2 separate regions of the Homo sapiens genome follow, and region 2 is linked to region 1. Evidence: fine-mapped expression QTL. Tissue or cell type: ovary. Region 1 holds a variant in brackets; the other region holds the start of a gene. All regions are shown on one strand. Distances are from middle to middle.

Evidence for each region. PIP is the estimated chance that this variant, and not a neighbour inherited with it, causes the effect.
Region 2: PRSS16 starts here. The variant in region 1 is fine-mapped to the expression of PRSS16 in ovary (GTEx, PIP above 0.99).

Annotation. Positions count from the first base shown.
Region 1 is chr6:27,267,013-27,277,726 of GRCh38, forward strand. It overlaps TRI-AAT9-1 (tRNA-Ile (anticodon AAT) 9-1), which reads left to right and starts at 6,948; the gene lies at 6,948-7,021. TRI-AAT3-1 (tRNA-Ile (anticodon AAT) 3-1) reads right to left here and starts at 8,272; the gene lies at 8,199-8,272. It also overlaps the pseudogene CDCA7P1. RefSeq lists a silencer at 9,470-9,640. The variant C/T (reference allele first, on the strand shown) is at 6,165.
Region 2 is chr6:27,241,535-27,252,248 of GRCh38, forward strand. It overlaps PRSS16 (serine protease 16), which reads left to right and starts at 6,167. Exons shown (of 12, transcript NM_005865.4): 1 at 6,167-6,273; 2 at 6,348-6,514; 3 at 7,313-7,412; 4 at 7,566-7,695; 5 at 9,149-9,272; 6 at 9,508-9,585; 7 at 9,683-9,730; 8 at 10,216-10,506. The coding sequence starts at 6,204. RefSeq lists enhancers at 9,218-9,267, 9,398-9,467, 9,608-9,977, 10,248-10,714, 10,358-10,527 and 1 more.

The DNA of each region.
Region 1 (10,714 bases):
AGCTGTCTCCATATGTCTCTCATTTTCTACCCTCTCTTTTTGCACTGCACTTGGCCTGTGGTCTGGGTGTGAGGTCCACATTCCTTCTGAGAACTCATAGACCAGCACTCTGAGCTCTTCCAACCCCCTTCTCCTATATTTCAGCCTCCAGGCTCAAATCCTCATTTACTGATCTTTATTTATTTATTTATTTATTTATTTATTTATTTATTTATTTTTGGAGACAGAGTCTTGCTCTATTCCCCAGGCTGGAGTGCAGTGGCCCAATCTCGGCTCACCGCAACCTCTGCCTCCTGGGTTCAAGCTATTCTCATACCTCAGCCCCCTGAGTAGCTGGGATTACAGGTGCCCACCACCACACCCGGCTATCTTTTGTATTTTTAGTAGGGACGGGGTTTCTCCATGTTGGCCAGGCTGGTCTCGAACTCCTGACCTCAAGGTGATCCGCGCGCCTCGGCCTCCCAAAGTGCTGGGATTACAGGCATCAGCCACCGCACCCGGCCGCTGATCTTTCTTTAATCATTCTTTTAAAAATGATGGATATCTTAATGGTTTCCTTCTTTTCTTTCCTCCTTTCTTTGGTTTTATTTTATTTTATTTTATTATTTTATATTTTGAGACAGGATCTCTGTCACCCAGGCTGAAATGGTTTCTTATAGGAAATAATCTTTGGAGCCTCTCTGAACCCACTCCACTACCATACAGAGATAATTTTATTAAGTTTGGATTATATCCTTTCAACCCTTATCTACATCTATGTGAAATTATCTACATATTTGTAATTATATTTTTGCATAAATAAAGCCCAATAGACATGATGTTATGTGTTCCTTAAACTTAATATGTCTTGGACACATTTCAAACACACTTATACCTAAAGGTCTGCCTTATCTTAGCTATTTGATTCTATAGCGTAGCATAATTTATTTAACTAGACCTCATTTGTTGGGCATTCAGGTGGTTCCTACTTTCTCTCTCTCATAAAGAAGTTTCACACGCCTCCCGCTCCTCCTGTTGTGTGACCGCTACGCGCGCCGCTACCGTGCTCTCCCGGCTCCAAGCGCAGACCAAGAGTTCCGCTGCCAGCAAGGCTGCTCTCCGCGTGCCGCAAAAGGATCTCAGAGTAAAGACGATCTTAAATTCGATATGTGAAGTTGATTCCCATGGAAACCTCGTCATCCTCTCATGACAATTATGACAGCTTTGCTTCTGATAATTTTGCAAACACGAGGCTTCAGTCAGTCCAGGAAGGCTGCTGGACCAGCAGCCAGTGCAGACACTCTGGACTTCTCAGGCAGGCGATGAAGTTTCCAGGGCGAAACACCAGGGGAGCAGCCAATAAAAAAGCAGAGTACCCCAAACCCTCAAGGAATTCTATGACTGGTTCCAATTCCGATTCAGAAGATGAAAGTGCCATGAATTTGTTTTGTTTTGTTTTGTTTTGTTTGAGGAAAGGGCTTGAAATATAAAGCAAAACAAAGCAATGCTTGTAAAACGCATGTCAGTATTAGAAGCTTCTCTGGTTTGTTCCCCGGAAGACATTCCCCGCCAGGCCCCAACTCACAATCAAGGAGACCCCAAGGTAAACATTCCTGGATGTTTCTTCAAGGAGACATTCTGAATGGAGAGAGCTCGGCCTCTTAGAGGTCAAGGTCAGGATCCTCGGGTCCCTTGGCGCTCTACCTACGGAAGAGAAGGAAGAAAAGACAGAGGCTAAGTACATGTTGGTGAGAAAGAGGAAGATTGTGGACGGCTACATGAACGAAGTTGAGATGCTCAGAAATCGTCCCGCCAGATCACCCATGATCCTTCCACATATAATTCGGCCACCGGAAGAAATTACAGAGGAAGGTTTGGAGAACATCTGCAGCAACTCTCAAGAGAAGATATATAACCGTTCGCTGGGTTCTATTTGTCATCAATGCCGCCAGAAAACTATTGTTATCAAACAAACTGCAGAAACCCAGACTGTTGGGGCTTTCAAGGCCTGTTCTGCGGCCCCGACCTTAGAAACCCTTGTGGTGAAGAGGTCAGGAATACTCTGCTGGATGCGAACTGGCATTGTCCGCCTTGTCGAGGCCGTGCAACTGCAGTTTCCGCTCGCAGCGAGATAGACTGTGGGAAACTGGGGTCCTTGAATATTTAGCCAAATACAATGGCTTTGGGAATGTGCATGCTTACTTGAAAAGTCTGAAACAGGAATTTGAAATGCAAGCATAATATTGGAAAATTCACTGCCTGTCTTCCACTTCTCAAATCTCTCTTGCTGAAGTTTTCAATTTTGTCATTGCTTGAAACCTGAATTAAGAATCTTGGTGATCAGTCTGTTTTATAAGAAACTTCCATCAAGAAGCAAAACAAGAACAAAAACAAAAACAAAAAAAAACCTTCCATCAAGAATCTTGACAATCAGCCTCTTTATAAGAAGCTCCAATCAAGATAAATCTCAGTAGAGACATGTGTTTCTGGAGCATCACTAAACGAATATTGCTGGCTATACTTTCCCCTCCTACAGTTTTCTCCTCTGCTCCCCACAACCTCCAATTCATAGTACCCTTTTCTCTTTCCAATGGTCCTCTCCCCCTGCTTAGTTTCTGAAGTCTTTTTAAATGACAATTTTATGAAAGCATATTTGATTTAGTTGCAGTTGAAATAGCCCTGCAGTCCACTCATGAAACCTAAGCACTTAAAAACACAGTAGTAGTATTAATTAACTATATCTATTGAATTTCAGAGAACAGCCCTCTAACTTGTTTATGCAAAAACAATGGGTATGTGGGTTGGGAGCCATGGCTCATGCCTGTAATCCCAGCACTTGGGAGGCAGAGGCGGGCAGATCACCTCAGGTCAGGAGTTCAAGACCAGCCTGGCCAACATGGTGAAACCCAGGCTCTAATAAAAACATAAAAATTAGCTGGGCCTGGTGGTGGGTGACTGTAATCCCAGCTACTCAGGAGGCTGATGCAGGAGAAACGCTTGAAACTAGGAGGCGGTGTTTGCAGTGAGCAGAGATGGTGCCATTGCACTTCAGCCTGGGTGACAAGAGGGAAACTCCATCTCAAAAAGAAACAAAAAACAAAAAACCAATGGATATGATTTAGTGTTTATACTAGTTGATATTTTTAACAGAATCGAGGCACAAAAGTCTTAAAACCATGTGGGAAACTTAGGTAATTGTTGCAGAGTGTAGCATATTACTTCAGATGCCTCTCATGAATATATTCCATGTATTGTGCTTATGATACAAGTTGTCACATATGAGTCCTAGTTGCTGCTAATTTCTTCTGCCTTAAAGTTAAGTGTAGCATCTCCCTTACACAATCATGATCCAAAGGTTTGTGGGCAGTGTTATACTTACAATATAGATATATATAGATATATATGTCTATCATATTTATAGCCTATGTATGACTATATATGATATATACCAAATATGAGATATATATGATATATATGAGATATATATGATATATATGATATATATCATGTATGAGATATATATGATATATATGATATATATCATGTATGAGATATATATGATATATATGATATATATCATATATGAGATATATATGATATATATCATATATGAGATATATATGATATATATGAGATATATCATATATAGCCTATATAGACTATCATATATATAGTCTATATATGATAGACATATATGTCTATCATATATGTCATATAAAGTACTACCATTGTAATTTCCCAGGATATCTTTCGATGTCTTTCCTATACCATATAGGAAAGACATCCTGGGAAATTACAATGGTGAAACTTTAGGCGTAGGCTCATTGAATTCTTGGTATAAAACTTCATCATGGCCGGGCGCGGTGGCTCACGCCTGTAATCCTAGCACTTTGGGAGGCCGAGGTGGGCGGATCACAAGGTCAGGAGATTGAGACCATCCTGGCTAACACGGTGAAACCCTGTCTCTACTAAAAAATAGAAGAAAATTAGCCGGGCTTAGTGGTGGGCACCCGTAGTCCCAGCTACTCGGGAGGCTGAGGCAGGAGAATGGCGTGAACCCGGGAGGCGGAGATTGCAGTGAGCCGAGATCGTGCCACTGCACTCCAGCCTGGGCGGCAGAGCGAGACTCTGTCTCAAAAAAAAAAAAAAAAAAAAAAAAAAAACAAAAATCATCATAATTGTAGTTTGCCAAGTTTATTTCAGTTCACATGTTAAGTATTTCAAACAAATTCTTGGGCCATTTTGGGTGGAAACTTGATATTAATAACTAGTGTAGGGTTCTTTGCAGTTTCTTGAAAAAATTGTAGGCTAGGCACAGGGTTCATGTTTAGATTTTAAGCACCTTTATAACAATGAGAAGTTCTTTTTTGGAGGTGGGTAACTGTCAACAGTTTGTTAACCTGACGTCTCTGCTGATTTAGTTTCTGGGCAGAGTTCCTGTGTTGGCATTCTCCTTTTCTTTTGCATTAATCAAGTTGTTTGGTAGAGGTGGAATCTAAGTGTTTTTGTCTCAACCACCTGGGAAAATAGTTGTAAGTTGACCACTGTCTGATTTACAGAATATAATTTCTCTAAATCCACTCACATATTTTTCTTTCTTTCTTTCTTTCTCTTTCTTTCTTTCTTTCTTTCTTTCTTTCTTTCTTTCTCTCTCTCTCTCTCTCTCTCTCTCTCTCTTTCTTTCTTTCTTTCTTTTTTTTTTTTTTTTTTGAGACGGAGTCTTGCTCTGTCGCCCAGGCTGGAGTGGTGGAGTGGAAAGTGGAGTGGCCTATCTCACTGCAACCTCCGCCTCCCGGGTTCAAGCAATTCTCCTGCCTCAGCCTTCCGAGTAGCTGGGACTACAGCCGCACGCCACCACGGCCCGCTAATTTTTGTATTTTTAGTAGAGACGGGGTTTCACCATGTTGGTCAGGCTGGTCTCAACCTCTGACCTCGTGATCCGCCCGCCTCGGCCTCTCAACGTGCTGGGATTACGGGCGTGAGCCACCGCTCCCGGCCCACATATTTCTTATATAGATTTATTTCTGTTCTCTCTTTTTAAAATTTTCACTGAAAAAAATGCAAGTGTGCTTGGAATATGGATTTATACCTAAAAGGAAACTTTATATTACTTCCAATAAATAAGACGTATTAGCTAGTTCATAGAGAAAATAACGAAAAAGACAAATACAGTGAAAAATTGTTATTTTTTAAAAGGGTAACTGATTTACAAAATCAGATACATGAAATGATTCTCAGTGAAACTAAAGAAGTTCTCAGAGAATATAATAAAAATGCTAAATTCAATTTCTCCAAATACACTTTAAAATTAGAACGTTAACTGTTTGAAATGGTGAACAAAAGCCTTCTTATCTCGATACAATTGTAGGGTTACTAGGATTTTATAATTTTAGTATAAATAACATAAGATATAATTGAATTAGTGGCTAAATATTTATGCCATAATAAAAGCAACTAGGATACTCAATCTCCTGAGAATTTCAAACAAAACAGCTTTTAAAGATGTACACAAGCAACTCTTTCTAACACCACCACCGATAGAGGTAGAATGTAACTTTTACAAGAAAGGTAATTTAAAGGTAATCAGCGAACAACTTATCAAAAATCATCTAGTCCACAAGCGAGTTCACACAGATCACTGGTCTCCGTACCCTCTGTTGTGGGGAAGGACAGGGATGGCTTAAGACAGGGACTGAGCGGACTTGCTGTGGGGAACTCAGGTTCTGGGCGGGTCCCATTCATCCATTCGCAATCCCCTAGGCTGTGCCAGATGGCAATCACCCTTGGGACTCCTAGGTACAGAAGCTGGGAGGACCACCCAGATTCGCTTACCAGAAGATGCCCATAGAGCCCCGAGGCGAAGGTGTTCCAATTTCCTCAGGTGAAGGATATCTACTGGTGGCTACAGGGCACAAATAAAGAAAAAGTGCGTGGATGCCACGTACCAGTTCATGTCCAGCAGAGATCCGAATGCCCATTTTAGTTACATTTGACCCTCCAGACCCCTAGTCCCAGAACCTGCCCTCCCCCAAGCTCTCTCTCTACCTCTGTGCCCACTCCAATCAGTCAAACAGAGCATTCCAGGGCAAACCCAAAAGAAGAGCAGGCAATTTAGCCACCCTGGGGCTTGTAGCCTGAACTCTTCAGACATGTTGTCCCAGTCGGAGCCTGGAGACACAGCTCAA[C/T]ATCTGCTTGCCCCAAGAACCCTGAGGCTCCAAGATCTCCGGACAGCCCTGGAAGACAGGCCGCTGCACTTATATAATAACAGGGTCCTCTCTGGTGCCAAAAGCCTGCAACCCATAGCAGAAAATAGCTCCTCCAAATAGCTCTTCATCCTCCAAATAACTGGGAGATGATTCCAGTCAAGTTGGAATAACAGGGATCAGATTTACATTCCTGCTGTAAAGAACCAAAACCTAACAAAAAAGATGAAATGACACTTTTCAAGACATACAGTATTTGGTAAGGAAGAATAGTAACCCCTAATCACAGGGGAAAAAATGAATGATTGGAGAGAGGGGGAGGTGAACAGTAGGATTAGCCCCTAACTAAGGCCTTGAATTTCCAGGCCCCAATGCAGAAAGGCAGAACCCAAGCAGAGCCTGGTGGACTCCCAGAGTTGATGAGGAGTTGATAGACTGGGAGACTGGGGCAGCTAGAGTGAATATGATAGCATACCAGAAAGAAGAGAGCTGTAATAAGAGATAACTCCAGAAAGAACTTCTGAAGTATTCAGCTTAATATTCATGAGTATGTGCAGGTATGGAACCTATACAGGACAGAAAAGACTACCCAGAATGATCAGAGGTAATATGATATTGAATTGTCTAAAGTAACTAAGAAATTGTTTCTCCTTGTGAGACAAACAGGAATTATATTGCTGAATTTAATGCTTTCACCACAAAAAAGGATGAGGGTCTAGATTAATGGGGAGGGGGAGTGGTGTGGGGGAAGAGACCCAAAATGTTGGCTGGTTAGTTCAGTTGGTTAGAGCGTGGTGCTAATAACGCCAAGGTCGTGGGTTCGATCCCCATATCGGCCACATATTTTCCTCAGTACTTTTTCTCGGTAGTTCTAGAGAAACTCGTCGGTTTTCAGCCACCAAAGAGCTAAGGATAATTAACAATGCAACTCGTCGGTTTTTAGCCAGCGAAGAGCTGAGGGTGATTAACAGTGCTCTCAGATGGTACAAATTCCCTGCCATCATTTCTTAATCTATCTGAAACCTAACTCCATCCCCGAATCACCCAAATTTCTACATCTCCTCAGGTAAAGTTCTTATTCTTTTCTTCCAGGTGTAAGGGCTGGGGACAGAAAGCTGTTCAGGGCAGAGGGCCCAAGATCGGGAGTCCTGCCGAAGGAAACAAAAAATGAGAAATTAGAAGATTATTGGCGTCTTAAAAATTATTTAAATAAAGCTTACTTGATTTCAAATTGTCCTTCCAAATTTCTATTGAAACCAACCTTGTTTCTCAAATTGACAAGAGATACAAGATAAAGAGAAGAAATATTGAATTGCCCTTTCAAGTTGGAAGCAGTATGCAAGGTGCATGTTTATTAATCACAAGAGGCTAGATTCGACTCCTTTCTAGCTCATCCTTTCCTAAAAACAAAACAAGAAACCAAACCAAAACAAAACAAAACACACCAAGTCTGTGTTCCATGTTCAAAGCGATAGCTTCCTCTCAGGGCAATCTTTTCTGTCAGTTAAATCTAAAAAAGTCTTCAGAGACATATAATAACAATCTCCTAAGAATTTGTTCTCTCTATCTTGTATCTCTTGCCAATTTGAGAAAGAAGGTTGGTTTCAGGAGCAATTTGGGAGGACAATTTGAAATCAAGTAAGCTTCATTTAAATAATTTTTAAAAAGCCAGTAATCTTCTAATTTTTTTTTTCTTTCATTAGGCAGAGCTCCCAATCTTGGGTCCTCTGCCCTGAACAGCTTTCTGTCCCCAGCCCTAACACCTAGTGGAAAAGAATAAGAACTTTACCTGAGAAGATGTAGAAATTTGGGTGATTCGGGAATGGAGTTAGAATTCAGATGGATTAAGAAATGATGGCAGCGAATTTGGACCATCTGAGAGCATTGTTTATTACCCTCAGCTCTTCACTGGCTGAAAACCGACGATTTGCATCGTTAATTATCCGTAGCCCTTCGCTGGCTGAAAACCGACGAGTTTCTGCAGAACTGCCATAAAAAACTACTGGGGAAAATACGTGGCCAGTACGGGGATCGAACCCGCGACCTTGGCGTTATTAGCACCACGCTCTAACCAACTGAGCTAACCAGCCGACGCTGGGTGCAGCTCTTCCCCCCCCACCCCCCGCCCTTAATCTCGACACTCATCCTTTTTTGGGAAAGCATTAAATTCAGCAATATAATTCTTGTTTGTCTCACAAGAAGAAACAATTTCTTAGTTGCTTTAGATTCTTAATAAAAAGAATGAGAAACTTTCTCTTAAAACAAAAACAAAACAAGGAAATAACATTTTTTATTTATTTATTTTTATTATTTTATTTTTTAAGCCGTGTTCCTAGAGTTGAAAGAGGACGCTTAAAAATTTCAAACTGCGGCGAATAGTCCAGGAATCCATGGAAACATTTGTTGCTTTCTAAATGTCTGGTAATCAGTACGTGCAGACAATGAATCAGACTCGGTGAAATATTAGCGAGTCCTTGTTTTGTAAGAGCCGTTCACTAACACAACCCAGAAATTGGCACCTGAAGGATATTCCCGACGAGTCTGTTTTCGATGGTCCCACCGTCGAGATCGTCCCAGGCAGGTTTCTCATGCCCGGAGCCTCCATTTGGAAGTTTCCCTACCTGTTGCCTCAGATTTCCAGAGTGACCTCAAATCAAAGCCCACTTTGAAGACCTTGGTATTGGAGAATTCTAGAAATGTGGCTCTACTCACCCTTCAGGGACGGTTAAACCGATCTTTCTACCCAGCCATTGTCTCCTAAAAATATTACAATTGTTTTTAATATCTTCTTTATCGTTCCAGAGATTTTTAACGCATAGCCAAAGTTAAACAAATGTTTTCTTTTTTCTCTTCACAAATAGTGGCATTTTATCTACTTTTTAAATCCTTTGCTTTTTTTTTAACTCAGAATATATTTTTGCAATTCTTTCATATCACAACAGAAAAGTGTTCATTCTCTTTTAAATATGCATAGTATTCAGCTATATGAGTATATACCATAGTTTAATAGGCATAGCTTAGACTTCCATCCTCCTATTGCAAATTTTTGGTATCTATGAGCATACACCGTATCTGATGTATGCCATGATACTTCGCACATGTGGAAAGGCTGCATCAAAGAACATGTACATTGGCAATTTTGATGGCCATTGTCACACTGTGCTTTAGAGGGTTGATCCCAATACTCTTTTTGCTTGCTTGTTTGTTTTAACTATACTTAGCACTAATATGATCCTGAACACATTTCTTTTCTTTTGCTTTTTTTTTTTCCGGTGAGACGGAGATTTACTTTTGTTGCTCAGGCTGGAGTGCAATGGCGCGATCTCGGCTCACTGCCTCCCAGGTTCAAGCGATTCTCCTGCCTCAGGCTCCCGAGTAGCTGGGATTACAGGCATGTGTCACCACTCCCGGCTAATTTTGTACTTTTAGTACAGACGGGGTTTCACCGTGTTGCCCAGGCTGTTCTCGAACTCCTGACCTCAGGTTATCCGCCCCCTTGGCCTCCCAAAGTGCTGGGATTACAGGCGTGAGCCACTGCGCCCGGCCAATCCTGGACACATTTCTACACCTTCTTCCTGAATTCCCTGCTACAAATTCGAAGCGAAACTAGGCAATCGGTATGTAGATTGTCTAGTTGGGGCATACTAGATTCTGGAACATTGTTTTGGGGGTACAAGTAATGACGTAAAGGGAATGTGATAGAATCAGGCGGGAGAAGGAAGGGGCTGAGGGGACAGCACGGAGAAGGAGCCAACAGTGGCCTTATTTTGTGCACCTAGGAGAGTACAACACGGGCAGAAACACCTGAGGGACAGGAACTAAGACACGTCATTCTGTCTGGAGATTAAGACTGAGCTGCAGAGTGGTACAGGGCGAGTAGTAGGAGATGAAGTCTGAGGAAGAAAGAACATTTATCAATACATGATGCAAAACCCTCTAGTAGATTACTATAAATGAATCAGAATACTTGATGGTAAGTGGATGGGGCACTAAAAATAAATTGGCCGGGCGCGGTGGCTCACGCCTGTAATCCCAGCACTTTGGGAGGCCGAGGTGGGAGGATCACCTGAGGTCAGGAGTTAGAGGCCAGCCTGGCTAACATGGTGAAACGCCATCTCTACTAAAAATGCAAAAATTAGCTGGGCTTGGTGGCGGGCGCCTGTAGTCCCAGCTACTCGGGAGGCTGAGGCAGGAGAATGACGTGAACCTGGGAGGCGGAGCTTGCAGTGAGCCAAGATAGCGCCACTGCACTCTAGCCTGGGCGACAGAGCAGGACTCCGTCTAAAATAAATAAATAAAAATAAAAAAGGAATTATCAGGTGTTAATTGATCTACATTAAGTCTAAACTAAGAACTATGATCACTATAGGCCAAGTTAAGGATTTTTGAATTGGTCTTAACAACAATGGGAAACTATGCAAGGATTTTAGGCAGAAAAGTCACATGGACGGATTCACATTTTTAAAATTTGTTTATTATTTATTTTTGAGACGGAGTCTGACTCTGTCTCCCAGGCTGGAGTACAGTGGAGC
Region 2 (10,714 bases), 25 kb before region 1:
ACAAGGAGATGTAAAGAAACTGATCTAGATAAGTTAGTTTACTTAGGCCTCCAACCCTGGCCTTTAATCACCCGCAGGACTGCTCTCTCCAGGGAGGGTGACCATATTAATTAGCCACAAGTGTGTTGACTCAAAGCCTTTGCCATTAAATCTGTACTGAATAAATGCCCGCAGGGCCAGCTTGTCAGGGCCGGGCTGCGTAATCTTTAGAACACCCTCCTCTGTGTGTGCAAGCAGGATGCAACAACTCCTTCTGTGAACGCCCGGTCCCCTAGCCTGCTCTTTCATTGGATATCTGTGTCTGAGTGCATTTTTTCATCCGATGTTCAGTCAGGGTCTGCGGGTCGGACCCGGCACATATACAGTGTTATGTGAAAAGGCTTTTCATGATATCCCAAATCATTTCGAATTTGTGAGAAAAAAACAAAAGTCTTACTTCTGAGCACCTTTGTGAGCGTCTGCCCTGCCATGAAAATAAGTTTCAGTTAGAAGCAAGAAAATGGAGCTCACTTCTAGCTAAACATTTTAAAAGAAAAAGGACAGTAATGCATGTCAGTTGATTTGGGACTATATATATATAATTTTTTTTTTGAGATGTAGTCTCACTCTATCGCCAGACTGGAGTGCAGTTGCATGATCTCGGCTCACTGCAATCTCCGCCTCCCGGGTTCAAGTAATTCTCCTGCCTCAGCCTCCCGAGTAGCTGGGACTACAGGCGCACACCACCACGCCCAGCTATTTTTTGTATTTTTAGTAGAGACGGGGTTTCACCATGTTGGCCAAGATGGTCTCGATCTCTTGACCTCGTGATCTACCCACCTCGGCCTCCCAAAGTGCTGGGATTAAAGGCACGAGCCACCACGCCTGGCGAGTCAACTATATTTTTAAAAAACCAGATTAATCAATAATGAAATTTTCACATATACAGCATAGACCTGAAACAAACATATGACTGACTCAGAACAGAAAGGCATTTAAAGACCTATTCTATCCTCACTGGGCATTCACTCCACGGCCCCAGTACGCTACCCGTCATTACCACCTGCACACCTGGACCTGTCTCAACCTCACAGTCTCTCCCAGACAGAAGCTAACCTAGCAGAGACGTCATGAGAGTTCCAAGGTTCATTTTGGGGAGTCTTGATTCCTTTTCAGGTCACTTGTAGGCACTAGAAAGATGCAGACCAGAAACAGCGAGATAACCAGGAGTTTCTTGAATTCAAATTCCTTCCACTAGTGCCTGAGGTTCTGGAGAAGAAGGCAACAGCTTCATAGCAAAAGGGAGTGACTAAGAAAGTGGCCCCAAGAAGAGGGCAGGAGATCTCTGAAAAAAGTTAAACTCCCAAAGGAAAAGGCAAGGATGGAGGGAAGATATGGGAAATATCTTTTGGACAGTGTCACTTTAAACAGATGGGTCTCCTTTCTCTGTGTAGCGCCAGGAAGTCCAGACTGTTGAGACAGAGTGAAGGGCTGAGAGGAAATCAAGATCACGTGGAAACTCGCTCACACAAGTCAAAAGATGCCCTTAGTTATCAGGTGGATTTCGCAATTTGTTTATAACGGTTGATTGAAGTTCATGAAAGCGCGCTGGATGGGGCGCGGGGGATTGAAATAAGTGAGCGCCCTAGTGTCCTGCCTGCGGATGATCATGAATCTGTTGGGCTGCGAATGGTTTAAAAAGGCAAAACAATCTAGGGGATGGATTTAAAGCTTCCTAGAGCATCATAATTTATCCCTTGTTTTACTGCTCAAATTGAGATGACTTCTGCTAAGAACAGTTCAGAGGAACAAAAACCATAGAGAAGTTACGGGTACTGGAAGCAAACCCACAATTTTTTGGGCACTAGAACCACACTCAAGCCCAACTAAGCTACCAATCATTCCACTGACTTGTCTTTGCTTCGAAAACATTAACTTCATCAACATTCTTCTCGTAGATAATCTTAGACCGGAAAGAAGTCCCTTCCCACCTTCCACCGCTGCCTCAATAAAAAGAATAATCTATTTTCGATTAAAACAAACAAACTTGGTTTTAAATCTTACTCATGGAGTAGACAAAGGATGCAGACGTTTTCAAACCTGCAGCTTCTGACTGCGTAATCCACGGAAATTTCTGACCCTCCTGAAGGACATCATGTCTATGCTCACCAGGGGTCTGACCCGCTGAACTTCAGGCAGCAGGCACCACTGCCCACAATAAAAAGATTCAGTTTCATGCCTGAAGGGATAATCTGGCAGCCTCTGGTCCTCTCTATTCAATGATTTTTCCTGGCGTATTTCAGTTCTCACTTTTCCAGCGTGTTCATGTTCGAAATTGGAGACTTTCTACCTGTTTGGTTCAGGTTTCTGGAGTCTAAGAAATTACATGAACAAATGGTATAGCCACTTTGGAAAACAGTTCAGTTCAATTTCTTTAAAAGTTAAATTTGATTTTAATATATGCTCTGGTAATTCCACATCTAGGTATCTACCCAAGAGAAATGAAAATGTATCTCAACAAAAAGACTAGTACACAAATGTTCATAGTGGCATTAGCCATAATAGCAAAAAGAGGAAATAAACCAAATGCACATTAACCAATTAATAGATAGCTCAAACATAGTATATCCATAAAACAGAATATTATTCAGCCATAAAAGGAAATGAAATGCTGATACCTGCTATAACATGGATGAACCTCAAAAACATTATGCTAAGTGGAAGAAGCCAGACATAAAAAAGCATGTATTGTAGAATTCCTTTTATATGGAATGTTCAAAAAAGGAAAATAAATATATAGAGAAAATAGATTAATGGTTGTCTATGGCTAGGAATAGAAATGGGAATTCACTGCAAATAGGCATGAAGAGACTTTTTGGGGGTTACTGAAAATGTTCTAAAACTGGATTCTGCTGATAGTTAAACAAATCTGTAAATCTACTTAAAAAATTAAAATTTACACTTAAAAACAGGTGAGTATTATGGTATGTAAATTATACCTAACAAAAGTGATTTTTTTTAAAAAAAGAGTTCAAGAGTCTTCTACAGTGGCTGTTTCCTTTTACATTTCCAATGCTTGTATTGCCTATCTTTATCAGAGCCATTTTTGTCAATATGAAGGATTATCTCATAGTTTTAATTTGCATTTTAGTGGCCGGGTGCAGTGGCTCACGCCTGTAATCGCAGCACTTTGGGAGGCCGAGGTGGGTGGATCTCTTGAGGTCAGGAGATCGAGACCAGCCTGGCCAACATGGTGAAACCCCATCTCTACTAAAAATACAAAATAGCCGGGCATGGTGGCGTGCACCTGTAATTCCAGCTGCTTGGGAGGCTGAGGCAGGAGAATCACTTGAACCCAGGAGGCAGAGGTTTTAGTGAGCCAAGATCATGCCACTGCATTCCAGCCTGGGTGACAGAGCAAGACTCTGTCTCCAAAAATAAATAAATAAATAAATAATAATTGCATTTTAGTAACGACTAATGATGTTGAGCATCTTGTCATGTGCTTATTGGCCATTGGTGTATTTTCTTTGGAGAAATCCCTGTTCAAACCCTTTTTCCATTTCCAATTGTGCTATTTGTCTTATTATTGAGTTGGGATAAACATCCCTGTCTTTCCAGTCTAGCAATTAAAACAACTAAGTAAATTCGTATTTATCGAAAAATAAATTTAGAAATTTATTAATACATTTTTTTAAATATAGGTTCTTACTGTGTTGCCCAATATGGAGTGCAGTGGCTATTCACAGGCTCGATCACAGTGTACTGCAGCTTTGAACTCCCAGCCCTCTCGTCCCAGCCTCCCAAGTAGCTGAGAATACAGGCATGCACCACCACACCCAACTTTAAATTCACTTATGTATTAAGGTTTTAAAAGACCCTTACGGCAACATATCAGTCCTTTTTTTTTTTTTTTGAGATGGAGTCTAGCTCTGTTGCCCAGGCTAGAGTGCAGTGGCATGATCTCGGCTCACTGCAAGCTCCACCTCCCGGGTTGAAGCGATCCTCCTGCCTCAGCCTCCTGAGTAGCTGGGATTACAGGCGCCTCCCCACCATGCCCAGCTAATTTTTGTAATTGTACTAGAGACAGGGTTTCACCATGTTGGCCAGGCTGGTCTCGAACTCATGACCTTGTGATCCAGCTGCCTCGGCCTCCCAAAGTGCTGGGATTACAAGCGTGAGCAACTGCGCCCGGCCATATATCAGTCTTTAAATAAAAGCCAAAGCCCTTTCTATGGCTTGCCAGCAGGGTTGAATCTCTGATTACTTCTCTCTTCTCATCTAATTCAAATTCCTTCATTGACTTTCCAGCCCACTAACTGTTGATGTTCCTTGGTGGTGCCAAGCAGGTTTGTGACTCAGAGTCTTTGCACCTGCTCTTTCTTGGGCCAGAAACCCTCTGACTCCAGATAACCTCATGCTCCCCCTGGCTCCTCATTCTTACCTCAAGTATTTTTTTCCCTGCCTTCCTCCCTCCCCACTCACTCCCTTGCCTCAACTCTTAGGTCACATTCTTAGGGAATTCTTTCCTGAGCAGAAAACTAATTCATTAATTAATCAATTTATCCATATAGCCTTTTGCTCACTGCATATTCATTGAGAACCTTTCAAGTGCCTTGAAGTAGTTTGGGTGTTATGGGTACACCAGTGAACAAAACAGACAAAATTGCTTCCCAGAATAAGCTTACTTCCTGGGGAATGGTTTGGGAGAGAAGTGCAATAAAATGTCATCACTATCAGGGAGTGACAACAGAAGGATCAGGGGACAGGGTCTCAGGTGTTGTGCCATTTATAAGGGTGGTCAGGTAAAACCCATTTGGTAAGATAAAATATATGAATGGGGAACTATAGGAAGTGATAAAATAAGACTTGCAGATATTTGGAGGAAAAGCATCCTAAGGAGAGCAAAAATTCTAAGGAAGGAGTGAGTCTTGTGAAATATGAAATAGTCCAATGCAGTTGGAGCAGTGAACCCAGGAGGGGTAGGAGATGAAATCATGACAGTATATACAACAGGGGGCCAGGTCATACAGAGTTTTAAAAACTGTTTTCAAAACTTTAGATTTACTTTGAGTAAGATGGGGCATCAGGGAAGTGTTCTAAACCAGGGAGTGAATGATTGTGAATGATTGGGCTAATATTTAATTCTGTCTCTCTGTCTGCTGAGTGTAGAATAAATCATGAGGCAGAAACAGGGTGACCAGCTAAAAGCCTTCCATGATATCCCAAGTCAGAGATGATGGTGGCTCAGCAGTGGTAGCACTGAAGGTAGTGAGAAGTCATCAGATTCTGGATATATTTTTTAAATTTATGGGAATAACTTTTTAAATGTACAATATTTCTCATAGTGATAAGTCCCATGAAAAAGAATTAGGAATAAAGTTTGAAAAGGAATAGAAGAGGGCCATAGGTTTGGCAATTTTTAAAAAGCTGACCATGGAAGACCTTTCTGAATGAATGACCTTTGAATAAAGATCCAGTTGAAGTGAGGGAGCAAACCACGTGGGTATATAGGGAAATCACAATCCATAGGGTGGGAACAACAAGAATAAGAACCCTAAGGCAGAAGCAAGCCTGGTATGTTCAAAGAACTGTAAGGAGTCTATGGACAGTGTGAGATTGTGGGTCAGAGAAGCTCGGGACAGTGAAGCAGAGCAGAAAGTGAGGGGGCTGGAAAATAGACAAGGTGAGATTGGGGGACAAAGAGATGAGTATGGAGAGAAAGACTGAAAAAGAGATGGGGGACTGAGAAAAAAGAGACGGAAAGACTGAGTGTGGGAACAACTGAGGGGTACTGAAGATATGCTGAGGGGCAGAAAGAAAAGACTGAGAATAAGTGGGCAACTGGGGTTCCAGAGGAGGTGCTGAGGTGGGGAGAGACAGAGGTTGAAGGACAATAAGGCATGCAAAGGAGGAATCTGAGATAAAGAGAAGGTAGACCGAAGAGCGGAGAGGAGGAGACTGAGACAGCGAGGGCTACTGAGAGCTGAGGGAAGAACAGACTGAGAGGCCCAGAGAGAAGAAACTGGGAGTTCCGATGCTGCATCAGCAGCCTCTGTGTACAGACTCTGGCGTCCCTGCCCCGCTTTAGCAGTTCCTACAGACGCTTGACCTGCCAGGAAAGGAAAGAAACCTGAGCCTCTGCTGAAAGGTGATGGATTTAAGGCCCGGCTGCTGAGGATAAGATAAAGGTCCTCCTGGGGGAGAACAGAGTCCCGAACACCATGGCCGTCTGGCTTGCCCAGTGGCTGGGCCCTCTGCTCTTGGTTTCCCTCTGGGGACTCTTGGCTCCAGGTAAGAGGAGGCTGAGGGTCAAGCAGGGCATCCTAAGGGGGCCAGCCTGACTTCCTTCCCTCCATGTCCCACAGCCTCCCTTCTTAGGCGCCTGGGTGAGCACATTCAGCAGTTTCAGGAGAGCTCTGCCCAGGGCCTGGGCCTGAGCCTGGGGCCAGGTGCTGCAGCCCTCCCAAAAGTGGGGTGGCTGGAGCAACTGCTGGACCCCTTCAACGTGTCCGACAGACGATCCTTCCTACAGGTGAGGCCGGGAGACGGGGAGTCCACTAACCATCCTGCCCTCTCCTCAGTCTCCCTCATCTCTTCCTCAGTCTGCACTTTTTTCTCTCTCCACACCTCAGTTCTCCCCATCCCTCTGCTTGAATCTCATGTTATGCTTGCTGTCAGTATCCCTTTTCCTGCCCTTTGTAGATTTGGCCTTACTCTCTCCTCTCCTCGGGGTCCCACTCGTTTTGTCCCTCAGATCTTGCCCTTCACCATTTCTTTCTCTCTGTCATTCACATTCACTGCTCCTCCCTACCCCCTTGTCCCTGTCCAGACTGGACACAAAACCTACCACCAGGTCTCAGTAGGTAGCAGAAATTTGAACCAGCTTTGGAATCAGACCTAGCTCACAACAGGCACTCAAAGATATCTATCGAAAGAAGGAACAAATTCGCCATTTTTCAGTGCTTCCTCTGTATTTAGTCTCCAAATATCATCCCACTTGGATCTTATTCCTAAATCCATCTGCATTTATTTCTTATTTTACAATTATTACTTCAAGAAATAGCAAGTTCCTTCAATGTGAGAGCCACTCCCTCAGTTCTGGGGATATAAGAGTGAAAAACCAGGTCAAAAATTTGCTTTTGTATATTTTGCATTCTAGATGAGGAGATGAACAGGGGAAAAGTGAGCAAGTAAATAAACAAGCTCATTTCAGACACTGTTAAGTACATAAGGAAAGATCCATTAGGAAGAGAGACTGGAACAAATGAGGAATTGAGAATAAGTCAGGACTCTCACAGTGCCATTTCTTCTTCCCCATCCCACCTCTCAGCGTTACTGGGTGAATGACCAACATTGGGTTGGCCAGGATGGACCCATATTCCTGCATCTAGGGGGTGAGGGCAGCCTTGGGCCTGGCTCAGTGATGAGAGGTAAGAGGCAATGTTGGGGGAAAGGAGTTGGGATGCTGGTGGGGACCAGGAAGGGGAGCTGCATATTGCAATGCTGTGAGACCTGAGGAGTGAAAGGGCTTAAACTCAACTTGCATCTCACCTCCCCACCCCCCACCCATACACTCTTCACAGGCCATCCCGCAGCCTTGGCCCCAGCCTGGGGCGCCCTGGTGATAAGCCTGGAACACAGATTTTATGGCCTGAGTATACCTGCTGGAGGCCTGGAAATGGCCCAGCTCCGCTTCTTGTCCAGCCGCCTTGCGTGAGTGGAGGAAGGGAAAGTGTTTATGGTCAAAGGACAGGAATGTCTGTGCTTTGGCATCTCTGCATCTGTGTCTCTCTCCTCCACTGTCTGAAGTCAACCTCTGAGTCTCTGGTTCCCTCTGTTTTCTTCTGTGTTTCATAGGGTCTTGTTTTTTCTCTTTCCATTTCTGGGTCTCTGACTCTCCCTATCTGTCTTTCTCTTATCCTGTGTTCTTTCTATTTCTGCGTCTCTGTCTGAAGTAAGCCACTGTATCACTGTGCAGACCACCAGCATTCCTTACCTGGATTACGGCCACAGCATTCTCACCATTTTTCCTGCTCTGCCCTTGACTTCCAGGTGGAAATCAGAGTAATTCTGTTAGAGCATAAACCAGGACATGATCCTCCCTGGCTTAAGTCCCTCAGACATCTTCTGTATTGCTTCAGAAGTAAAGCAATTTTGACTGTATTTGACTTCAGAGTAAAGTCAAAGCTTTTACAGTCGCCATGGAGTCCAGTGGGTTTTGGCCTCTAGTTAACTCTGACCTATACTCTCTCACTTTCACTGGGCTCCAGCTACATTGAAGTCCTCACTGTCCTCCAGACTTACACGCACATTCCTGCCTTGAGCCTTTGAACTCATCCCTCTGCATGGCGTGGCCTTCCCCTAGATGTTTTTATGCCTCTCACCCCAGCCTCCTTCAGTGCATCTCACTCCTATTAACGACCGCCACCATTTTTCCAACTTTACTTCACCTGCTTTTTGTTTCTTTCATCTGCTTTATTCTTACAGAACTTAGCTTTTTCTTTCCTCATTGGTATCTCTGTCTGTGTCTGTAACAGTCTGTTTGCCTGTCTCATTTTCTCCGTCTCTGTATCTACATCTGTGCCTCTTTGTCTCCATCTCTGTCTCTCTGCATCTTAATCTTTTCTACAAGCGAAACGGTTTTCTAACTGCAACAGGATGGTACCAACTGCAAGCCATTCAGAAAGGTTAGGGAAGAAAGAAAGCCCTTGGGAGGAGAAAGAGGATGTTAGACATATCCAAACTTCACTCTCCATTTCTCTTTGTGTCTGTTCTCTCTCCCAATACCTTGCAACTCATCAGGTTAGGACCCCTCCTTCTCCTCTTAGTAGCCCTCCTTGAGTGCCCTCAACCCTTCCCTACATTTGTCAGGTTTTCATCTAAACTGACTTGGAAATTTTTCCTCTCCTACCTAAAACGAGAAGGGAAAGAGGGTGGTGGCTTTCTAGAAAGTGGACGAGGACAGGGTCTCCCTTGGCCTAGGCACACATGTTCTGGGAAGTGTATGTGGCTTGGAGAACACTTGGAAACACGTCATGAGAAAACGGCCCTGGTTTCTGGCCAGATTCACCCATTCATGTCTCTGGATCCGGGTTTCCCCCAGAATGGGGAAATCTTCAGGGATTCCCAGCGATGAGGACCGACCGAGTCCCCCCTTTGACCCTAGGCTGGCTGATGTGGTCTCTGCCCGCCTGGCACTTTCCCGCCTCTTTAACATCTCCTCCTCCAGCCCCTGGATCTGCTTCGGAGGCTCCTATGCCGGCTCCTTGGCCGCCTGGGCCCGGCTGAAGGTCCTGCGACTCCTCCGGGTGGGCTGGGGGGAGGGAACTCGGACTCCAGGGCCCCAGTCTCAGATAATAGGAATACCCTCCCACCACGCCCCTACCTTCCTCCCGCGCCCAAAGAATTTTGCACAAGCTGTCCTCACAAGAGCCCGAGATTACACAGCGAGTAAGTGACACAGAGGCAGAAAGATATGCGATTCCAACCCCTCAGCCCGCAGGCTGACGGCGTCTCCTCCCTTAGTTCCCCCATCTCATTTTCGCGTCGGTCGCCTCCTCCGCCCCGGTGCGGGCCGTGCTGGATTTCTCCGAGTATAATGACGTAAGGATGGCGGGCAGCAGGTGCGGGACGGGGAGGGGTCCCAGCGGGCGGAGTCCCTTGACACTTCCGGATACCTTCCTCTGCGGTCCGCCCACAGGTGGTATCCCGAAGCCTAATGAGCACCGCGATCGGCGGGTCCCTGGAGGTAGGAGGTGGGGCCTAGTCCGAGGGGGACTGGGAGGGAAAAGAGGCCTCGGATGCCAGGGAAGAGGAGGCCAGAGAAGGGCGAAACCTGCAACGTGGCGGGGTCTAAGGAAGGTCGGAGCTCGGGGGAATACGCAGGTTTTGGAAGAAGGCGGGAGCTGACGAAGAGGAGGGGCACCAGGAAAAGAGGCGCTCCCCAGAGAGGGCGGGGTTTGGGCAGGGACAATCCTATCCGGAGGTGAGGCTCAAGGTGGGGCGGGGCCACAATGGAGGACGGGGCCTGCAGGGAAGACCCGAGAAGGAGGGCTGCGAGGCAGGGGATTGGGGGCGGGGGCCTGGGGGCGGGGGCCTGGGCCAAGAGCTAGGTCTGCACCCTCTGAGTCCCGCTAGGGGAAAGTGGGGAACCCAAGGAGGACGCAGGTCCTGGGTAGGGAAAGCCGAGGCCCAGCCTAAGTCTTGGCGGACATCGCCTCTTGCTTCCCACAGTGCCGGGCGGCGGTGTCCGTCGCCTTCGCTGAAGTGGAGCGGCGGCTGCGCTCGGGTGGGGCGGCTCAAGCAGCATTGCGGACGGAGCTGAGCGCTTGCGGGCCCCTGGGCCGCGCTGAAAACCAGGCGGAGCTGTTGGGGGCGCTGCAGGCACTGGTGGGAGGTGTAGTGCAGTATGATGGGCAGACGGGAGCGCCGCTAAGCGTGCGACAGCTCTGCGGACTTCTCCTCGGGGGCGGGGGCAACCGCAGCCACTCCACGCCCTACTGCGGGCTTCGTCGGGCGGTGCAGGTGAGCACTCCCTGGCACAGCTGGGAGGAGTTAGCGGACAAAGATTCCTGCCCCACTTCCGTTGTGTGATCTTGGGCAAGCGAGAACCTTCTCTGAAACTTCGTTTTCTCATCTGTAAAATGGGGATAACACTTCACAGGGCCGATGGGAAGATGAAATGAGGCGGGTCATGTAGAGCAATCAGCTGGGAGCCTGGCACACAGTGTGC